Regions from separate parts of the Homo sapiens genome. Here region 2 is linked to region 1. A link means that fine-mapping ties the variant in region 1 to the expression of a gene that starts in the linked region. Tissue or cell type: whole blood. Region 1 holds a variant in brackets; the other region holds the start of a gene. All regions are shown on one strand. Distances are from middle to middle.

Region 1 (10,021 bases):
CTGTCACCTCAGCAATAACTCCAATCAATTATTGGGTACAGGTCATTCAAAAGTTCCTTTTCTCTTTGTACCTGTATTAATGCTGGCACACAGTGCCTCTAGCTAGGTCTACAGCTTTCATCCCTGATACAGCATTAGCTGTCATCCCACACAGGAATTTGGTTTACAAAACCCTTATTTATCTACCCTTTGCCCTTCCTTTTTACACTGGATGTCACTGAAATTCTGCTTCCTGAGATACTGGTAAACAGCAGCATGTATATACAATTTGAGTCAAACAACTGTGGCACTGTGTTACCTCCATGTAACCCTAGGTCTTGCAAAAGTCTGAAGAACACAGCTCTGGTCTGGATAGTCTTTCAGGTCACGTGCTCTAGCCTACTCCTTCTTAGGTCCCCCGTGTGCGGTGCCATAGATATAGTGTTACAATGAGGTGTTGACTTTCTGCTACATACTCTAGGGTGTGGCCAAGCAACCACTGATAAGGAGATTAGTATGGATAGAAGGAATCCAGGTACTATTCATCATGACAATGGGAGAATGACCACAAAGGCATTTCAGAGATTTTCAAAGCTGCCCCTCCAATCACAGGCCCAGAGGACCAGGGCCTCAATTGAGGGCAGAATGGTTTAAAGCAAGGGGCCCCGGGCTCCTGTGGAACCTCAGGGCTCACTGTCCAGAGGTGCCTCAGGTCTCTGCTCCCCAAATTCCAGTGTGGTGCACCTAAGCCACCCCAGCTGTGGCTGAAGCATGTCCATGTATGACTCAGGCCATCACTCTAGAGGGGACAAGTAATGAGCCTTGACAGTGTTGACATGGAAGTGACTCTGCAGGCACACACAGCATAAGAGTTGTGGAGGCATGACGTCCTCCACCTAGATTCCATAGAATGTCTCAAACAGCCTTGGGGCTCAGGCAGGGACCAGCCAAACACATGGAACCACCATAGAGAGCCCCCACTAAGGCAAAGCCTAATGGAGCTGTGGAAGTGGGGTCACCCCTGAGATCTCAGAACTGTAGAGCCACCAGAGTGCAACTCCGGCTTAGGAAAACCACAGGCATGCAACTTCAATACATGAGAGCTGAAACATGCTCTGTTCCCAGCAAAGTCATGGGAACAGGGCTGCTCAGAACCTTGGAGACTGCACCCCCACATCAGTGTGTCCGGAAAGTGGGACATGGAGTCAAAGAATATTATTTTCAAGCCTTAAGATTTATGGTTGTTTTCCCTGTTGGGTTTTGGACTTGCTTGTGGCCTATTACTCCTTTCTTCGCTCCTATTTCTCCCTTTTGGGATGGGAATGTTTATCCTATGCCAGTCCTACCATTGTATATTGGAAGTACATAATTTGCTTGATTTCACAGGCTCATACCTGGAGAGAAATTTACCTAAGGATGAAGCATACCTTAAGTCTCATCTATATTGTCAGGCCTCTGAGCCCAAGCTAAGCCATCATAACCCCTGTGACCTGCACATATACATCCAGATGGCCTGGAGCAACTGAAGAACCACAAAACAAGTGAAACAGTCAGTTCCTGCCTTAACTGATGACATTCCACCATTGTGATTTGTTCCTGCCCCACCTTAACTAATCAATTGACCTTGTGACATTCCTCCCCTGGACAATGAGTCTCAGGAGCTCCCCACTGAGCACCTTGTGACCCCCTCCCCTGCTAACAATAGATAAACACCTTTAACTGTAATTTTCCACTGCCTACCCAAGTCCTTTAAGACTGCCCCTCTCCTATCTTCCTTTGCTGACTCCTTTCTCGGACTCAGCCCACTTGCACCAAAGTGAATAAACAGCCTCACTGCTCACACAAAGCCTGTTTGGTGGTCTGTTCACATGGACGTGTGTAACATTTGGTGCCGAAAAACCCGGAACAGGGGGATTCCTTTGGGAGACCAGTCCCCTGTCCTTGCCCTCACTCCATGAGGAGATCCACCTATGACCTCCAGTCCTCAGACAAGCCCCAGGAACATCTCACCAATTTCAAATTGGGTAAGTGGTCTCTTCACTCTCTTCTCCAGCCTCTCTTGCTACCCTTCAATCTCCTTGTCCTTCCAATTCCAGTTCTTTTTCCTCTCTAGTAGAGACAAAGGAGACACATTTTATCTGTGAATTCAGAAACCCCGACGTCGGTCACAGATTTGGGAAGACAGTCGTCCCTTGGTGTCTGATCTTCACAGGGACACCTGCCTTGATCATTCACCCACACTCCCCTCGTGGCAAGCCAATTATGGGGATGCCTGCTTTGGCTGATCACCCACATTACAGCCCAGGACTCAGCCAGGGACACCTAATGAAAGCCTGGTAGCTGCTCACTTCCCCTTCTCTACATCTCTACCTTTCTCTTCAATTTCACCTCCTTCACTATGGGCAACTTTACACCCTCCATTCCTCCCTCTTCCCCCTTAGCCTGTGTACTTAAAAACTTAAAACCTCTTAAACTAACACCTGATCTAAAACCCAAAAGTCTTATTTTCTTCTGCAATGCCGCTTGGCCCCAATATAAACTTGACAATGGTTCCAAATGGCCAGAAAATGTAACTTTCGATTTCTCCATCCTACAAAACCTAGATAATTTTTGTGAAAAATTGGGCAAATTGTCTGAGGTGCCTTACGTCCAAACATTTTTTACACTTCGCTCCCTCCCTAGTCTCTGCTCCCAGTGCGACTTGTCTCAGATTTTCCTTCTTTCTCTCCCGTCTGCTCCTTCAGTCTCCACCCCAAGCTCAGAGTCCTCTGAATCCTCCTTTTCCACTGACCCTTCTGACCTCTCTCCTCCTCCCCCGGCCGCTCCTCGCCAGGCTGAATCGGGTCCCAATTCTTCCGCAGCCTCTGCTCCCCCACCCTATAACCCTGCTATTACCCCCCCTCCTCACACTCAGTCTTGCTTACAGTTTCATTCCCCGACTAGCTCTCCCCCACCTGCCCAACAATTTCCTCCTAGAGAGGTGGCTGGAGCTAAAGGCATAGTCAGGGTACATGTGACTTTTTCTTTATCTGACCTCTCCCAAATAAGTTAGCGTTTAGGATCTTTTTCATCAAATATAAAAACCCAGCCCAGTTCATGGCCCGTTTGGCAACAACCCTTAGATTCTTTACCACCCTAGACCCAGAGGGACCAGAAGGCCGCCTTATCCTTAATATGCATTTTATCACCCAATCCACTCCTGACATTAAAAAAAAAAAAAACCCAAAAGTTTGATTCTGGCCCTCAAACCCCACAACAGGATTTAATCAACCTTGCCTTCAAGGTGTTCAATAACAGAGAAGAAGCTGCCAAGCAGCAACTTATCTCTGAGTTACAACTACTTGCCTCCGCTGTAAGACAACCCACAACCACGTCTCCAGCATACAAAACCTTCAGAACATCCAAGCCACGGCTCCCAGGGGCTCCTTCAAAACCTCCTCGTGGACCTTGCTTCAAATGCCAAAAGCCTGGCCACTGGGCCTCGGAATGCCCACAGCCCAAGATTCCTCCTAAGACATGCCCTGTCTGTGTGGGCCCCCACTGGAAATCAGACTGTCCAACTCACATCGCCGCCACTCCTAAAGCTCCTGGAGCTCAAACCCAATATTCCTTGGCTGACTCTTTCCCAGATCTCCTCAGCTTAGTGGCTGAATACTGATGCTGCCCCATCATCTCAGAAGCCCCCTGGACCATCACAGACGCCAAGCTTCAGGTAACTCTTACAGTGGAGGGTAAGTCCGTCCCCTGTTTAATTGATACAGGGGCTACTCACTCCACATTACCTTCTTTTCAAGGGCCTGTTTCCCTTGCCCCCCATAACTGTTGTGGGTATTGACAGCCAAGATTCAAAACCCCTTAAAACTCCCCCACTCTGGTGCCAACTTGGACAACATTATTTTATGCACTCTTTTTTTAGTTACGCCCACCTGCCAGTTTCCTTATTAGGCTGAGATATTTTAACCAAATTATCTGCTTCCCTGACTATTCCTGGGCTACAGCCACACCTCATTGCTGCACTTTTACCCAATTCAAGGCCTCTTTCACATCCTCCTCTTGTATCTTCCCACCTTAATCCACAAATATGGGATACCTCTACTCCTACCTTGGCAACCAATCATGCACCCCTCATCATCCCACTAAAACCTAACCACCCTTACCCTGCTCAGTGCCAATATCCCATCCCACAGCAGGCTTTAAAAGGGTTAAAGCCTGTTATCACCCACCTGTTACAACATGGCCTCTTAAAGCCTACAAATTCTCCTTACAACTCCCCTATCCTACCCGTCCAGAAACCGGACAAGTCTTACATGTTGGTTTAGGATCTTCGCCTTATTAATCAAATCGTCCTTCCCATCCATCCTATAGTGCCAAACCCGCACACCCTCCTATCTTCAATACCCCCTTCCACAACTCACTATTCTATTATCGACCTCAAAGGTGCCTTCTTTACTATCCCCTTGCATCCCTCCTCCCAGCCTCTTTTCGCCTTTACTTGGACTGACCCTGACACCCACCAATCCCAACAACTCACCTGGATTGTTCTGCCCCAGGGCTTCAGGGACAGCCCACACTACTTTGGTCAGGCCCTTTCTCATGATCTGCTTTCTTTTTGCCCATCTGCCTCCCACCTTATTCAATATATTGCTGATCTTCTTCTTTGCAGCCCCTCTTACCAATCTTCCCAGCAGGACACTATTCTGCTTCTTCAACATCTCTACTCAAAGGGGTACCGAGTATCCCCCTCCAAGGCACAAATTTCTTCCCCTAGCATTACCTATATCAGTATAATCCTCCATCAACATACACACACCCTTCCTGAAGACATTGTTCAGTTCATCTCCCAGACCCCAATCCCCACCA[T/C]CAAACAACAACTCCTTTCCTTCTTAGGCATTGTTGAATATTTCCAACTCTGGATACCAGGCTTTGCTATCTTAACCAAACCACTTTACAAGCTCACAAAGGGTAATTTAACTGATCCCATAGACCCTAAGTCTTTACCCCATTATTCCTTTCACTCTCTCAGAAAGGCCCTGGAGACAGCTCCCACACTAGCACTCCCCAACTCATCCCATCCTTTTTCCTTACACACAGCTGAAATACAAGGCTGTGCTGCTGGAGTCCTCACACAGGAGCCAGGCCCACGACCTGTTGTCTTTCTATCAAAACAACTTGACCTCACAGTTCTGGGCTGGCCCTCATGTCTGCGTGTGGTGACAGCTGCCACTTTAATACTTCTAGAGGCCTTCAAAATCACAGGCTATGCTCCACTTACCCTTTACAGTTCTCACAACCTTCAAGCATTAATATCCTCCTCACACCTTTTACATTTATTGTCTGCCCCTCAACTCCTCCAGCTATATTCACTCTTTGTTGAAACTCCAACAGTAACTATTACACATGGGCCTGATTTCAACCCAGCTTCTCACTTAGCACCCAAAACAAGTCCTGAACCACATGACTGTATTTCCCTAATACACTTAGCATCTTCCCCTTTTCCTCATATTTCTATTCTTCCAATTCCAAACCCAGACCATACTTGGTTTATCGATGGCAGTTCTTCTAAACTCAATCAATTTTCACCAGCTAAAGCGAGATATGCTGTCATGTCCCACACCTCTATTATCGAAGCTGCTGCACTTCCTCCCTCCACCACTTCCCAACAAGCTGAACTGATTGCTTTAACTTGTGTGCTCTCTCTCACTAAAGGAATGCACATTAACATTTATGCTGACTCCAAATATGCTTTCCACATCCTCCATAACCATGCTGCCATCTGGGCCAAAAAAGGCTTCCTTGCCACATAAGGCTCTTCCATTATCAATGCCTCCCTCATAAAGGCCCTCCTTAAGGCTGCTCTCCTGCCAGCCAAGGCTAGAGTCATTCATTTTAAAGGACACCAGAAACCTACTGATCTTATTGCAAAAGGAAATGCTTATGCCAACAGGACAGCAAAAGAAACAGCCAATGTTTCCACACCTGCTAATATTCCAGCCCCCACTCCAGAGGACCAGTATTTTTCTTTCTCCTCTATCACTCCCACCTACTCTGGTTCTGAAAACCTCCTCTACCAGTCTTTTCCAACTCAGGGCAAGTGGTCCTTCGAGCATGGAAAATTCATTCTTCCTGCCTCACAAGCTCAGTCCATTCTTTCTTCCCTTCATGACCACTTCCATGTGGGATACAAGCCTGGCTATCCTCCTGCAGCCCCTCATCTCCTTCCCTTCATGGAAATCCATCCTTAAGACCATCACCTCTCAATGCTCTGTCTGCCATACCACCAGCCTCCAAGGCTTTCTCAGGCCTCCTCCTTTTCCTATGCATCAGGCTCATGGATTTACTCTGACACAAGATTGGCAGATTGAGTTTACTCATATGCCCTGTGTCCGTAAATTTAAGTATCTCCTGGTTTGGGTCAACACCTTCACCGGGTAGGTCGAGGCCTTTCCCAGTAGCTCAGAAAAGGCTACTGCAGTCTTCTCTTCCCTTCTAATAGATATAATTCCCCGATTTTGCCTCCCTACTTCTGTGCAATCTGACAATGGTCTGGCTTTTATTAGTCAAATCACCCAAGCAATTTCTCAGGCTCTTGGTATTCAGTGGAATCTTCATACCCCTTACCATCTTCAATCTTCAGGAAAGGTAGAATGGACTAATGGCCTTTTAAAAACACACCTCACCAAGCTCAGCCTCCAACTTAAAAAGGACTGGACAGTACTTCTACCACTTGCCCTTCTCAGAATTAGAGCCTGCCCTTAAGATGCTACAGGGTACAGTCCATTTAAACTTTTATGTGGACGTACTTTCTTGCTCAGCCCCAAACTTTTCCAGACACCAGCCCTCTAGGTGACTATCTTCCAGTCCTTCAGCAGGCTAGACAGGAAATTCGCCAGACTGCTAATCTTCTCTTGCCTACTCCACATTCCCAGCCATATGAAGACATCTCTTTTAGTACACCCTCTCACCTCTTCACTTTGCACTTCCAGTTTTGCCTTACACAAGGTCTCTTTTTCCTCTGTGGCTCATCCACCTACATGTGTTTTCCTGTTAATTGGACAGGCGCATGCACACCAGTTTTCCTTACTCCCAAAATTCAATTTGCAAATGGGACCGAACAGCTTCCTGTTCCCTTCATGACACTGACACAACAAAAAAGGGTTATTCCACTAATTCCCTTGCTTGTCGGTTTAGGACTTTCTGCCTCCACTATTGCTCTTGGAACTGGAGTAGCAGGCATTTCAACCTCTGTCACAACCTTCCATAGCCTCTCTAATGACTTCTCTGCTAGCATCACAGACATATCACAAACTTTATCAGTCCTTCAGGCCCAGGTTGACTCTTTAGCTGTGGTTGTCCTCCAAAACAGCTGAGACCTCGACTTACTGCTAAAAAAGGAGGACTCTGTATATTTTTAAATGAAGCGTTTTTTTGTTTTGTTTTGTTTTGTTTTGTTTTACCTAAATCAAACTGGCCTGGTATATGACAACATAGAAAAACTCAAGGATAGAGCCCAAGAACTCACCAACCAAGCAAATAATTACACTGAACCCCCTTGGGCACTCTCTAATTGGATGTCCTTGGTCCTCCCAATTCTTCGTCCTCTAATACCTGTTTTTCTCCTTCTCTTATTCAGACCTTGTGTCTTCCGTTTAGTTTCTCAGTTCATACAAAACAGCATCCAGGCCATCACCAATCATTCTATATGACAAATGCTCCTTCTAACAACCCCACAATATCACCCCTTACCCCAAAATCTTTCTTCAGTTTAATCTCTCCCACTTTAGGTTCCCGCGCCACCCCTAATCCCACTCGAAGCAGCCCTGAGAAACATTGCCCATTATCTCTCCATACCACCCCCAAAAGTTTTCACAGCCCCAACACTTCACCACTATTTTGTTTTGTTTTTCTTATTAATATAAGAAGACAGGAATGTCAGGCCTCTGAGCCCAAGCTAAGCCATCATAACGCCTGTGACCTGCACATATACATCCAGATGGCCTGGAGCAACTGAAGAACCACAAAACAAGTGAAACAGCCAGTTCCTGCCTTAACTGATGACATTCCACCATAGTGATTTGTTCCTGCTCCAACCTAATTAATCAATCGACCTTGTGACATTCCTCCCCTAGACAATGAGTTTCAGGAGCTCCCCACCGAGCACCTTGTGACCCCCTCCCCTGCTAACAATAGATAACCACCTTTAACTGTAATTTTCCACTGCCTACCCAAGTCCTATAAGACTGCCCCTCTCCCATCTACCTTCACTGACTCCTTTCTCGGACTCAGCCCACTTGCACCCAAGTGAATAAACAGCCTCATTGTTCACACAAAGACTGTTTGATGGTCTCTTCACACAGATGTGTGTAACATAAATCTGATTTGGATGAGATTCTGAATTTTAGACTTTTGAGTTGATGTTAGCATAAGTTAAATCTTTGGGGAATATTGGGATGAAATGAATGTATTCTGTATGTGAGAAGGACATTAATTTTGTGGGCCAGAGGGGCAATGCTATGGACTGAATGTGTTCCCCAAAGCTCATGTGTTGCATATAATCCCCACTGCAACAGCGTTGGGAGATAGGAACTTTTGGACAATATTTAAGTCATGAGAGCCTAATGGATTAATGCCATTAAATAAAAAGGGTTTGTTAGAGTGGGTTTGTGCTGTTCTGTTCTTCTGACATGTGAGGACACAGCATTTGTCCCCTTTTGCCCTCATGCCTTCCACTATATGCTGATGCAGCAAGAAGGCCCTCACAAGATGCTGGTGCCTTGAGCTTGGACTTCCTAGCCTCCAGAACTGTGAGAAATAAATTTCTGTTCTTTGCAAATTACCTAGCCTTAGGCATTTTGTTATAGCAGCACAAAACAGACTATGACAATAACTTATAGTTTGCATCGTGTTACTAACTTCAAGATTGTTTTATTATAATTCAGTTTTGCACCACATTTTGGCAAGAAAATTTAACTTTGGCAAGGAGATAGGAAATCCCTCTCCACTTCTCCTCAGGCTAGGAAATGTCCCACACATAGTTCTAAAGCCCACAGCTCCCAGTATTTACTGTCTAAGCTGCCTCACTGGTGACAACATTCAATTATTACAAGGCAATCCCTAAAAGGACTATGTGTCTTCTGAAGTAAGCTAAATCAGTAGCAGGTGTATGACAGGCACAGCTGGTGAAGGTAAGGGGACCAAGGAGCATTTGGAGGAGGGCCAGAAGTAGGCAGAGCTAGAGGGAGCATAGTAGAATGTGACAAGTGTATACCAGGCAAACCGAGCATTTTCAAAAAAAAAGAAAAAAGCCTGCATTCGTCCAACTCGGTAGAGAGGCACAAGAGAACGAAGTTGAGGGCTTGTCTTTTGGGATCTCTTTCAGGGACTGGGTCAGATGCTGAGTACACATTTGCAGAATTCCTCAAAATAAGGAGACACAGTCCTATTAATCAGAAGAAGAAAGAGGACCAAACATGCAGTCCTGATTCTGATGGGAGGCAAAGCAAGCATAACTTCAAGAAGAAGAGTGACAAAAACAGGAGAAGGCAGAATAATTTGGGGGGTAAGAGTCTGAGGAGGAAGTAAGGATAAGCTCCTGCTATGGAGTGACTATTTGTGTCCTCCCAATTCATATGTTAAAATGCTATCCCCCAACCTGATAGTATTAAGAGGTGTGGCCTCTGAGAGATTATCAGGTCAGGAAAGTGGAGCCCTCATGAATGTGATTAGTGCCCTTACAAGAAGTGGCAGGAGAGAGATCTCTCTGTCTTTCTGTCATGTGAGAACACATCAAGAAGACAGCCAGAAAGTGGGCCCTCACCAGACACCGGATCTCCTGGCATCTTTATCTTGGACTTCCCAGCCTCCAGAACTATGAAAAATAAATCTTTTTGTTTTTTCTTTAAGCCACTTAATCTATGGTAATTTGTTCTAGTTGCCTGAGCTAAGATAGCTCCTGAGTGCAAATAGAAGGGTATGCTTTAGAGAGGAAACTATAAGGAGTTGGTGAGTCTAGATGTCCAAGTTAAAGGCCTATGATCCTGTAGGA
Region 2 (10,021 bases), 24 kb after region 1:
AGCCCATCAGGCTGGTGAGGGCACAGGGGGCAGGGGACAAATTGAGTAGCCCACTCCGCGCGGACTACCTTTCCAGGCACACACTCAGGCAGAGACCCAGACTCGGGACTTGCGGCTGCAAAACGGACGAGGCCCGGGCATACTTGGGTGCTGGGTCACCCTCCTAGGTGCTGGCTCCTGGCACCAGGGCAGCAAAGTGCTTCGGCCGGAGGGCTGCGGGTCCCTGAAGCCGGATGGGCAGCGGGGAGATGGCAGACCCTCCGTAGGATGGTGTGCGTGAGCTGCGTGAGCGCCTGGGGCATCTCCTCCACGGAATGGCACCCGCACCAGGTGCCCCTGGCCTCGCCTGGCCTTGCCAGCCAGAGGACCAGTCCTGGACGGGGAGGGGGAGGACAAGAGCAGGTGCACAGGCCCCAGAACCCGGCTCCCTGACCCTGGCCAGAACGCAGAGCTGCCGGACGCACCTCAGACCACTCCCTGGCCCTCTGGTGGGCACGCCGGGGTGCACACCCGTCGCCCCGCTGGCGCCTGCCTCCGGGGCACGTGCGGGAGGGGCAGAGGCCTGGACCAGGAACCGCTGTGGTGAGAGCCAAAGGCGCTGGGACCTGCGGCCCACAGACCTTTGGACACCCCGGTGGGGGTGGGGGTGGGCTGGCGCCTGTGTTCCCGGGACCCGCGGCGCGAGGGGAGTGGGGGTGGGGCTAGGGGATAGGAGCAGGTGACGTCACCCGGGGTCCTGGGGCGCTCGGGAAGGCGGCGAGAGCCAGGCCACGTGACCCGCCCGCGGCAACGGCCCTGCGCTCTCCCGGGCCGGCGACGCGGAGGGGTCCGCGCTGCACCGCCGCCGCACCCCGGCCGCGTGACCGCACTGCAGAGAGCGGCTGCGAGCAGGCGCCTGCGCACCGGCCCAAACGCCGAGCGAGCGAGGGAGAGGCACAGTCAGAGGGAACGCCCGCGCGGGGAGCCAGGGGCGCCCGACCCCGCCGCCGCCGCAGCGGCGCGCAGCCCCCGACGCGCCCTGTGGGGACCCGGACCAGGAGGGACCCTGCCCCGGGAAAAGGTATCAGACCCACCCGGGGAGGGGGACGCTGGGTCCCGGGAGACTCCGCCGCCCCTCGCCTGTCCGCCCTAACAGAACTGAAGCAGCCTGCGGGGCAGCGGTCCGGGGTCCGGGGTCCGGGGTCCGGGGTCCGGGGGCGGCGCGGGGATGAGGCCAAGACCCGCAGGGACCACCCCCCCGGGGGGGCGGGGCGGGACAGGGGCGGGGCCTGGCTGCAGAGGCGCGGCCAGGGGAGGAGGGCGGCTGGGGGTGGGAGTGGACGTGGACGTGGACGTGGGCGTGGGGAGGGGTGGGCATTAACCTCGCTCTCGCCCGCTCGCATTCACAGGCTGTGGAGACCTGGGCTCCGACCCCAGTTCATCCCCCCACACCCCCGCCGCCCCGTGCCACCCTGGTCCGCGCTGGGAACCCTATCCTGCCCCTCGTGTCAGCCCGGCACTGGCCAGAATCGCGGGCATGGCGGTGACCATGCTGCAGGACTGGTGCCGGTGGATGGGGGTCAACGCTCGCAGGGGCCTGCTCATCCTGGGCATCCCGGAGGACTGTGATGATGCCGAATTCCAAGAGTCCCTCGAGGCTGCCCTGAGGCCTATGGGACACTTTACAGTGCTAGGCAAAGCGTTTCGAGAGGAGGATAATGCCACCGCGGCCCTGGTCGAGCTCGACCGGGAAGTCAACTATGCTTTGGTCCCCAGGGAAATCCCCGGCACTGGGGGCCCGTGGAACGTGGTCTTTGTGCCCCGTTGCTCAGGCGAGGAGTTTCTCGGTCTCGGTCGCGTGTTCCACTTCCCGGAGCAAGAGGGGCAGATGGTGGAGAGCGTGGCCGGCGCCCTGGGTGTGGGGCTGCGCAGGGTGTGCTGGCTGCGATCCATCGGTCAGGCGGTCCAGCCCTGGGTGGAGGCCGTGAGGTGCCAGAGCCTGGGTGTGTTTTCCGGGAGGGACCAGCCAGCCCCAGGGGAGGAGTCCTTTGAGGTCTGGCTAGACCACACCACCGAAATGCTGCATGTGTGGCAGGGGGTCTCGGAAAGGGAGAGGAGGAGGAGGCTGCTGGAAGGCTTGCGTGGGACCGCCCTGCAGCTCGTGCACGCGCTCCTGGCGGAGAACCCCGCCAGGACGGCGCAGGACTGTCTGGCGGCCCTGGCCCAGGTGTTTGGAGACAACGAGTCCCAGGCGACCATCCGGGTGAAGTGTCTGACCGCTCAGCAGCAGTCAGGCGAGCGTCTCTCAGCTTTCGTGTTGCGGCTGGAAGTGCTGCTGCAGAAGGCCATGGAGAAGGAGGCCCTGGCCAGAGCATCCGCCGACCGCGTGCGCCTGAGGCAGATGCTCACCAGGGCCCACCTTACTGAGCCTCTGGATGAAGCACTGAGGAAGCTGAGAATGGCCGGGAGGTCTCCAAGTTTCTTGGAGATGCTGGGGCTCGTTCGGGAGTCTGAGGCATGGGAGGCCAGTCTAGCCAGGAGCGTGAGAGCCCAGACACAGGAAGGGGCCGGTGCCCGGGCTGGTGCCCAGGCTGTTGCCAGAGCCAGCACTAAAGTAGAGGCGGTCCCAGGAGGTCCTGGTCGGGAGCCAGAGGGCCTCCTCCAGGCAGGAGGCCAGGAGGCTGAGGAGCTCCTCCAGGAGGGGCTCAAGCCCGTCCTGGAGGAATGTGATAACTAGGTTGGGGCTGGGGAGGCAGCCCAGCGCGAGTCCTCCCCGGGCAAATAGGCTCCGAGGGCCCCGGGGCCTCCTCTCCTCCTCTCAGGCAGCAGGGCCCTGGAGACAGGCGGAGGCCGGGCCAGGGCCGGTCCCTCACCCCACATCGGGATCGGGGCCAGCTGTGGCCTGGGTGGGGGCACCTGAAGATGTCTGCCCCCCACTCCTTGTCCTGGGTTGGGAGAGGCAGGGGGAAAGAGGCCCTCTCAAGGGTGTCAGCTGCCTGGGTCTCCCAAGAGCGGTCCCCCACCCGCGGAGTCCTCCACATGGCTCCCGTGTGGGCCTCTGACTTCATGCCCAGGCCCTCCTGGGGCTCTTCCCTGACCTTGGCTTCCAGCCTGAGGTTACACATGTGGCCACTCTGACCCTTCTGAAAGCCCTGAGCGCCGCCCCCCCCACCCCACCCCGCAGTGCTGTCAGGGATCCTGGATACCAGGACCTAGCCTACTGTCCCTCTGCCTGTCTGCAACGTCCAAACCACCTACTCCTGGGAGGTGATCAGCGTGCCCTGGGAACCCAATCAGCCCCTGCTCAAGACTACCACGCCATCCCGTGCAGCCCAGGGGACCACACAGACCCTCAGGGACCAAGCACCCCACACACCCCGATGTTAGCCCAGCCACTGTGGCACCTCACCTCACCTTGTCCCCAGCCAACACTGCACCCCGCACCCCGCACCCCATGCAGTTTCCCACAGCAGAGGCGAGGCCGGCTGGAACACTGAATGAAATTTATTGAAGAGAGATATGTACTGAAACCGTTGAAGAGAAGGGAATCACAACACAGAAGCTGCAAATGGCCACCACAGGACACAGGTCGGGACCCCCCTCCTCCTGGGGGAACACCCACCCCAGGTCTAGGAAACTCAGTAACAAGTAACAACAGGGGTGGAACGCCAAAGCACAAAGTTCACTGGGGAAACTCAGACAGCCCCACTCCATCCCGGGTCCTGTTCTTTCTCCCACAGTCATGGTCACCATCGCTGTCACGGGATGAGTGTCCACTGTGCCCTGGTGCCTTCTTTCCGCCATCTCCCGGGACTGCGCTGGGGTCCTCTGGGGAGGAGCTGCTCAGAGAAGAACACACACGGCTCCACAAAAACAAGCAGCCCCTGGCCTAGATCTACGCAGGGAAAGCAGAGGTGGTGCTCACGATACGGGAGAGCAGTGAGCACAACCTGGGCTCCCAGGAAGCTCACAGCACGTGCCCCTGGCACTGGAGGGGCGCCTCCCCCCACCCCATTTGGTATTAAATGTGGTCATCTGGGTCACCGGGAAGGTGGTGGTGGGCAGGGCCCCTTGGGGGGAAGTGGGGGGCCCCGATCCCGATGTGGGGTGAGGGACCGGCCCTGGCCCCGCCTCCGCCTGTCTCCAGGGCCCTGCTGCCTGAGAGGAGGAGAGGAGGCCCCGGGGCCCTCGGAGCCTATTTGCCCGGGGAGGACTCGCGCTGGGCTGCCTCCCCAGCCCCAACCTAGTTATCACATTCCTCCAGGACGGGCTTGAGCCCCTCCTGGAGGAGCTCCTCAGCCTCCTGGCCTCCTGCCTGGAGGAGGCCCTCTGGCTCCCGACCAGGACCTCCTGGGACCGCCTCTACTTTAGTGCTGGCTCTGGCAACAGCCTGGGCACCAGCCCGGGCACCGGCCCCTTCCTGTGTCTGGGCTCTCACGCTCCTGGCTAGACTGGCCTCCCATGCCTCAGACTCCCGAACGAGCCCCAGCATCTCCAAGAAACTTGGAGACCTCCCGGCCATTCTCAGCTTCCTCAGTGCTTCATCCAGAGGCTCAGTAAGGTGGGCCCTGGTGAGCATCTGCCTCAGGCGCACGCGGTCGGCGGATGCTCTGGCCAGGGCCTCCTTCTCCATGGCCTTCTGCAGCAGCACTTCCAGCCGCAACACGAAAGCTGAGAGACGCTCGCCTGACTGCTGCTGAGCGGTCAGACACTTCACCCGGATGGTCGCCTGGGACTCGTTGTCTCCAAACACCTGGGCCAGGGCCGCCAGACAGTCCTGCGCCGTCCTGGCGGGGTTCTCCGCCAGGAGCGCGTGCACGAGCTGCAGGGCGGTCCCACGCAAGCCTTCCAGCAGCCTCCTCCTCCTCTCCCTTTCCGAGACCCCCTGCCACACATGCAGCATTTCGGTGGTGTGGTCTAGCCAGACCTCAAAGGACTCCTCCCCTGGGGCTGGCTGGTCCCTCCCGGAAAACACGCCCAGGCTCTGGCACCTCACGGCCTCCACCCAGGGCTGGACCGCCTGACCGATGGATCGCAGCCAGCACACCCTGCGCAGCCCCACACCCAGGGCGCCGGCCACGCTCTCCACCATCTGCCCCTCTTGCTCCGGGAAGTGGAACACGCGACCGAGACCGAGAAACTCCTCGCCTGAGCAACGGGGCACAAAGACCACGTTCCACGGGCCCCCAGTGCCGGGGATTTCCCTGGGGACCAAAGCATAGTTGACTTCCCGGTCGAGCTCGACCAGGGCCGCGGTGGCATTATCCTCCTCTCGAAACGCTTTGCCTAGCACTGTAAAGTGTCCCATAGGCCTCAGGGCAGCCTCGAGGGACTCTTGGAATTCGGCATCATCACAGTCCTCCGGGATGCCCAGGATGAGCAGGCCCCTGCGAGCGTTGACCCCCATCCACCGGCACCAGTCCTGCAGCATGGTCACCGCCATGCCCGCGATTCTGGCCAGTGCCGGGCTGACACGAGGGGCAGGATAGGGTTCCCAGCGCGGACCAGGGTGGCACGGGGCGGCGGGGGTGTGGGGGGATGAACTGGGGTCGGAGCCCAGGTCTCCACAGCCTGTGAATGCGAGCGGGCGAGAGCGAGGTTAATGCCCACCCCTCCCCACGCCCACGTCCACGTCCACGTCCACTCCCACCCCCAGCCGCCCTCCTCCCCTGGCCGCGCCTCTGCAGCCAGGCCCCGCCCCTGTCCCGCCCCGCCCCCCCGGGGGGGTGGTCCCTGCGGGTCTTGGCCTCATCCCCGCGCCGCCCCCGGACCCCGGACCCCGGACCCCGGACCCCGGACCGCTGCCCCGCAGGCTGCTTCAGTTCTGTTAGGGCGGACAGGCGAGGGGCGGCGGAGTCTCCCGGGACCCAGCGTCCCCCTCCCCGGGTGGGTCTGATACCTTTTCCCGGGGCAGGGTCCCTCCTGGTCCGGGTCCCCACAGGGCGCGTCGGGGGCTGCGCGCCGCTGCGGCGGCGGCGGGGTCGGGCGCCCCTGGCTCCCCGCGCGGGCGTTCCCTCTGACTGTGCCTCTCCCTCGCTCGCTCGGCGTTTGGGCCGGTGCGCAGGCGCCTGCTCGCAGCCGCTCTCTGCAGTGCGGTCACGCGGCCGGGGTGCGGCGGCGGTGCAGCGCGGACCCCTCCGCGTCGCCGGCCCGGGAGAGCGCAGGGCCGTTGCCGCGGGCGGGTCACGTGGCCTGGCTCTCGCCGCCTTCCCGAGCGCCCCAGGACCCCGGGTGACGTCACCTGCTCCTATCCCCTAGCCCCACCCCCACTCCCCTCGCGCCGCGGGTCCCGGGAACACAGGCGCCAGCCCACCCCCACCCCCACCGGGGTGTCCAAAGGTCTGTGGGCCGCAGGTCCCAGCGCCTTTGGCTCTCACCACAGCGGTTCCTGGTCCAGGCCTCTGCCCCTCCCGCACGTGCCCCGGAGGCAGGCGCCAGCGGGGCGACGGGTGTGCACCCCGGCGTGCCCACCAGAGGGCCAGGGAGTGGTCTGAGGTGCGTCCGGCAGCTCTGCGTTCTGGCCAGGGTCAGGGAGCCGGGTTCTGGGGCCTGTGCACCTGCTCTTGTCCTCCCCCTCCCCGTCCAGGACTGGTCCTCTGGCTGGCAAGGCCAGGCGAGGCCAGGGGCACCTGGTGCGGGTGCCATTCCGTGGAGGAGATGCCCCAGGCGCTCACGCAGCTCACGCACACCATCCTACGGAGGGTCTGCCATCTCCCCGCTGCCCATCCGGCTTCAGGGACCCGCAGCCCTCCGGCCGAAGCACTTTGCTGCCCTGGTGCCAGGAGCCAGCACCTAGGAGGGTGACCCAGCACCCAAGTATGCCCGGGCCTCGTCCGTTTTGCAGCCGCAAGTCCCGAGTCTGGGTCTCTGCCTGAGTGTGTGCCTGGAAAGGTAGTCCGCGCGGAGTGGGCTACTCAATTTGTCCCCTGCCCCCTGTGCCCTCACCAGCCTGATGGGCTCTGGGACATTGCTCTCTTGGCCCTGAGGGCAGCATGGGTGTCGTACCTCCCTGGAGACCTCCGTCTGTCAGGGCCTGAGTCAGCCTTCCATAGGTCCTTCCCCAGTCCTCTGTTGCCGGGGCTAGACACTGCGCCAGGGCAGAGCAGCCTCCGCTCAAAACAGAGATTCTGCGCCCGTGGATCTGACCACCCTGCACCTGACCCATCATGGGAGGCTGGGGCCATGTGAACAGCATCTCCACCAGGCAGGTGGCAAACAGGTTCCCACGGGGTCACACCTCTGGGTGTCGTTCCCTCATCCCCTTCTCTTTCCTTGCCTGACCTCCTGTTTGGCAACTTGCTGGCCAAGGTTTCCCCCAAGCGTCCAGCTCGCCCAAGCTCCTTGCTGAATCACAGCCCCAGAGTATTTGTCTATGACCCTGGGGATGGACATTCCGGTCCTTCCCACTGTTTGGCTGTTGCAGACACTGCTGCCAGTGGCATCCCGCATGCCTGTCTGAGCCACCACCGTCAGCCAGAAAGACTCTGGGGTGCACAGCAGGCAGTGGCTCTGCTGGGACTTGGGCTGTGCCTATCAACGCCACAACCAAGCATTGCTCATCTGTGACCTCCGGTGCGTGGCTGAACCCATGTTCCCTCGCACTGGCAGCGTGGGAGCGGTCCTGGGTTCCTACAGCCCGAGCAGCCTTTGGTCCTGTCCAGCCTCGCCTGCTTGCCCATCCCACGGGGAGAGACACCACCTCATCGCTGTGTGCCTTGCGTTTCCCCGAGCGGTGGCGAGGTCGTGCATCCTCTCACTGGCCGTTCCTGGTTCCTCTTCTGTGAATCTCCTTTGCTCCTTTCCTCCTCATCTCGCAGATGACAGGCGTCATCGGCCCGTTTCCAGGAGAAAGTTCCTAGCGTCAAGATCGAAGCCTTTCTCCTTTTGTGATATAAGCCATGGCCAGTCTATCACGTTGCCCAGAAGCAGGTCGCATTGGAGTGGGCCTCACAATTAGACTTTGGCTTGCCCGTATGGTTGTGAAAGGTTTCAGAATCAAGATGGAGTCACTTGTTGTTCAAGCAAACAAAAATCCAAAAACCTGACAAATAGAGCTGTGGAGGGCCACCTAGGCAGGGTTCCCATGCACGAATGCCTGATAACAAAAGCTATCACGGAAGACTGCAAAACCCACAAATTTGCACAAAGGCTGTTGCAACCTGACACAAATAATACTTCTGTGAGGACACCTGCCCAGCAACTTCCTGTCCAAGCCCCTGACCAATGCTACCCTTGTTATTCATCCTTGTAGCCAAAGATCATTATGTCAAAACAATTATGTAATCCTCTTCACTTGTCCTGAAAAACCTTTGTCTGCCTTCCCCTGCCTGAATATGCACATAGTTCACTAGGGCGCACGCGTCCCCACTGCAGTGCCTATTTCTGAATACCATTCTTATAGGGAGGCTCCCTCTCTGTGTGGTACTTAGGTTGGCATGGTCTTGCTCCCCAGGCTTTTCTACCTCCCAGGTAGTAAACGTGGGGTCAGCGAAGAAACGCATGTCTTCTGTCACAAAGCAGCCTCCCCGGTTGGGCTCGTGTGTCCAGTCCTCCCCGCCCCCCTGCCCCCCACCGCTTCTCCCCCTTGAGGGCCAAGACTGCTTGTTCTCATTCAGGCAAACTGCTGCTCTTTACCTCTGCTGTGAGAGTGTCTGTCTATCGAACCTTTAGTGTTAGACTTGTCACGGCTTATACCACATATTGTCCTCTCTCTTGTTTTCAGCCGTGATTTTTCTGGAGTCCTTCTTCAGAAAGGGCACCGACCCCCCCCCCCTCCCCCCCCCCGCCTCGGCCGCCCCCGCCCTGGGAACATCTGTGGGTCTGGTGTCTCCAACTGGCCCAGCCAGCCCACCGGCCGGCTCGCAACTAATTTCCTGTTTTCGGCCTTGTCTCTTCCCACTCTCCTTCCTTCTGCACCTGCTGACTCCAAGTCCAGGACGCTGCAGGACACCCATTGCCCCCCGCCAACCCCGGGCAAGGCTGGGCTGTGACACGTCAACTGTCTTTCTTTTGTCAGTCCTCTGTCCCCATTGTCTCCACCTCTCAACACAGTTGACTCTCCTTCCTTCTCAAAACCATTTCCTTTCTCAGCTTCTTCCTCTCCCCCACCCCACTTTTGGGCTGACCTCCTCCCTCTCTACCTGCCTCTCTGCCCTTGGACCTTCCTCCTCCTCCTCCTACTTTGCTGGATCTAAGCGTGGTGGGGGCGGGCTCCCAGCCTCAACCCTGGGACATACGGCACCTCCGATGAATGCTCTGTCTCTGGACGTGACCTCTCTTCCAAGCTCCGCACGTACCCATCCATCTGCCCACGTGGATGCCCCGCAGACATTTCAGAGCTAAGATGTTCAAACCGGAGGGCTTCGTCCCCTTCACCATGCCTACACTGTCCCCGGGCTTCCCCCTCTGTGCAAAGGGCTCTGCCTCCTACCTGGTGACTCAAACAAAGCAGCCAAGATTCTCTCCCCTCTCCTTTGTTCCTCACTCCCAAATCTAACCCATCATTGGATTTTGTTGACTCTGCTCCAAGACTGCTACCCTTCTCATCTCCGTGGTCCTTGGCCCGCCCTGCCTCCTGTTCTCCCTGCCTCCACTCCGCTTCCTCCCTGCTCCACCAACACCCCCTCAGCAGCCAGGGTGATCTTTTTGCAACACCACCAGACCCTGCTCCTCCCTGTGGCACCCCATCTCCTTAGAGTAATCTCAAAGTCCCCATCCTGGTCAAGAGCACCCCCCACGCTGCTCCTGGGGATCTGGCTTCCTCTGATGCTCTCCTTCCTTCCCCGAAATCCACCCCATGTTGCCATGCCCCCAGCTCCTCTCACCACATTCCTGCCGATCTGGCCTGTTCAGCTGGCCCCAAAGCACAGGGCTTGTTCCCACCTTCGGCCTTTGCCATCCCTCCTTCCTCTGTGTGAGCCATCCAGGCCCAAGAACCTTCTGTGGCAGCAGCTTCCTCCTGCTCTTCCTCTCCCTCCTCCTCCTCCTCCTCCTATTCCTCCTCCTCCCCCTCCTCCTGCACCTCCTCCTCCTTCATGTCTCA

What was found. PIP is the estimated chance that this variant, and not a neighbour inherited with it, causes the effect.
Region 2: PNMA6A starts here. The variant in region 1 is fine-mapped to the expression of PNMA6A in whole blood (TOPMed, PIP above 0.99).

Annotation. Positions count from the first base shown.
Region 1 is chrX:153,092,880-153,102,900 of GRCh38, reverse strand. No RefSeq gene overlaps it. Among named protein-coding and RNA genes, the nearest start is that of PNMA6A, 25 kb to the right of the region's middle. The variant T/C (reference allele first, on the strand shown) is at 4,840.
Region 2 is chrX:153,068,464-153,078,484 of GRCh38, reverse strand. PNMA6A (PNMA family member 6A) reads right to left here and starts at 6,031. Exons shown (of 2, transcript NM_032882.6): 1 at 5,879-6,031; 2 at 3,466-5,550. The coding sequence starts at 5,422. The coding sequence ends at 4,223. It also overlaps the pseudogene PNMA6B.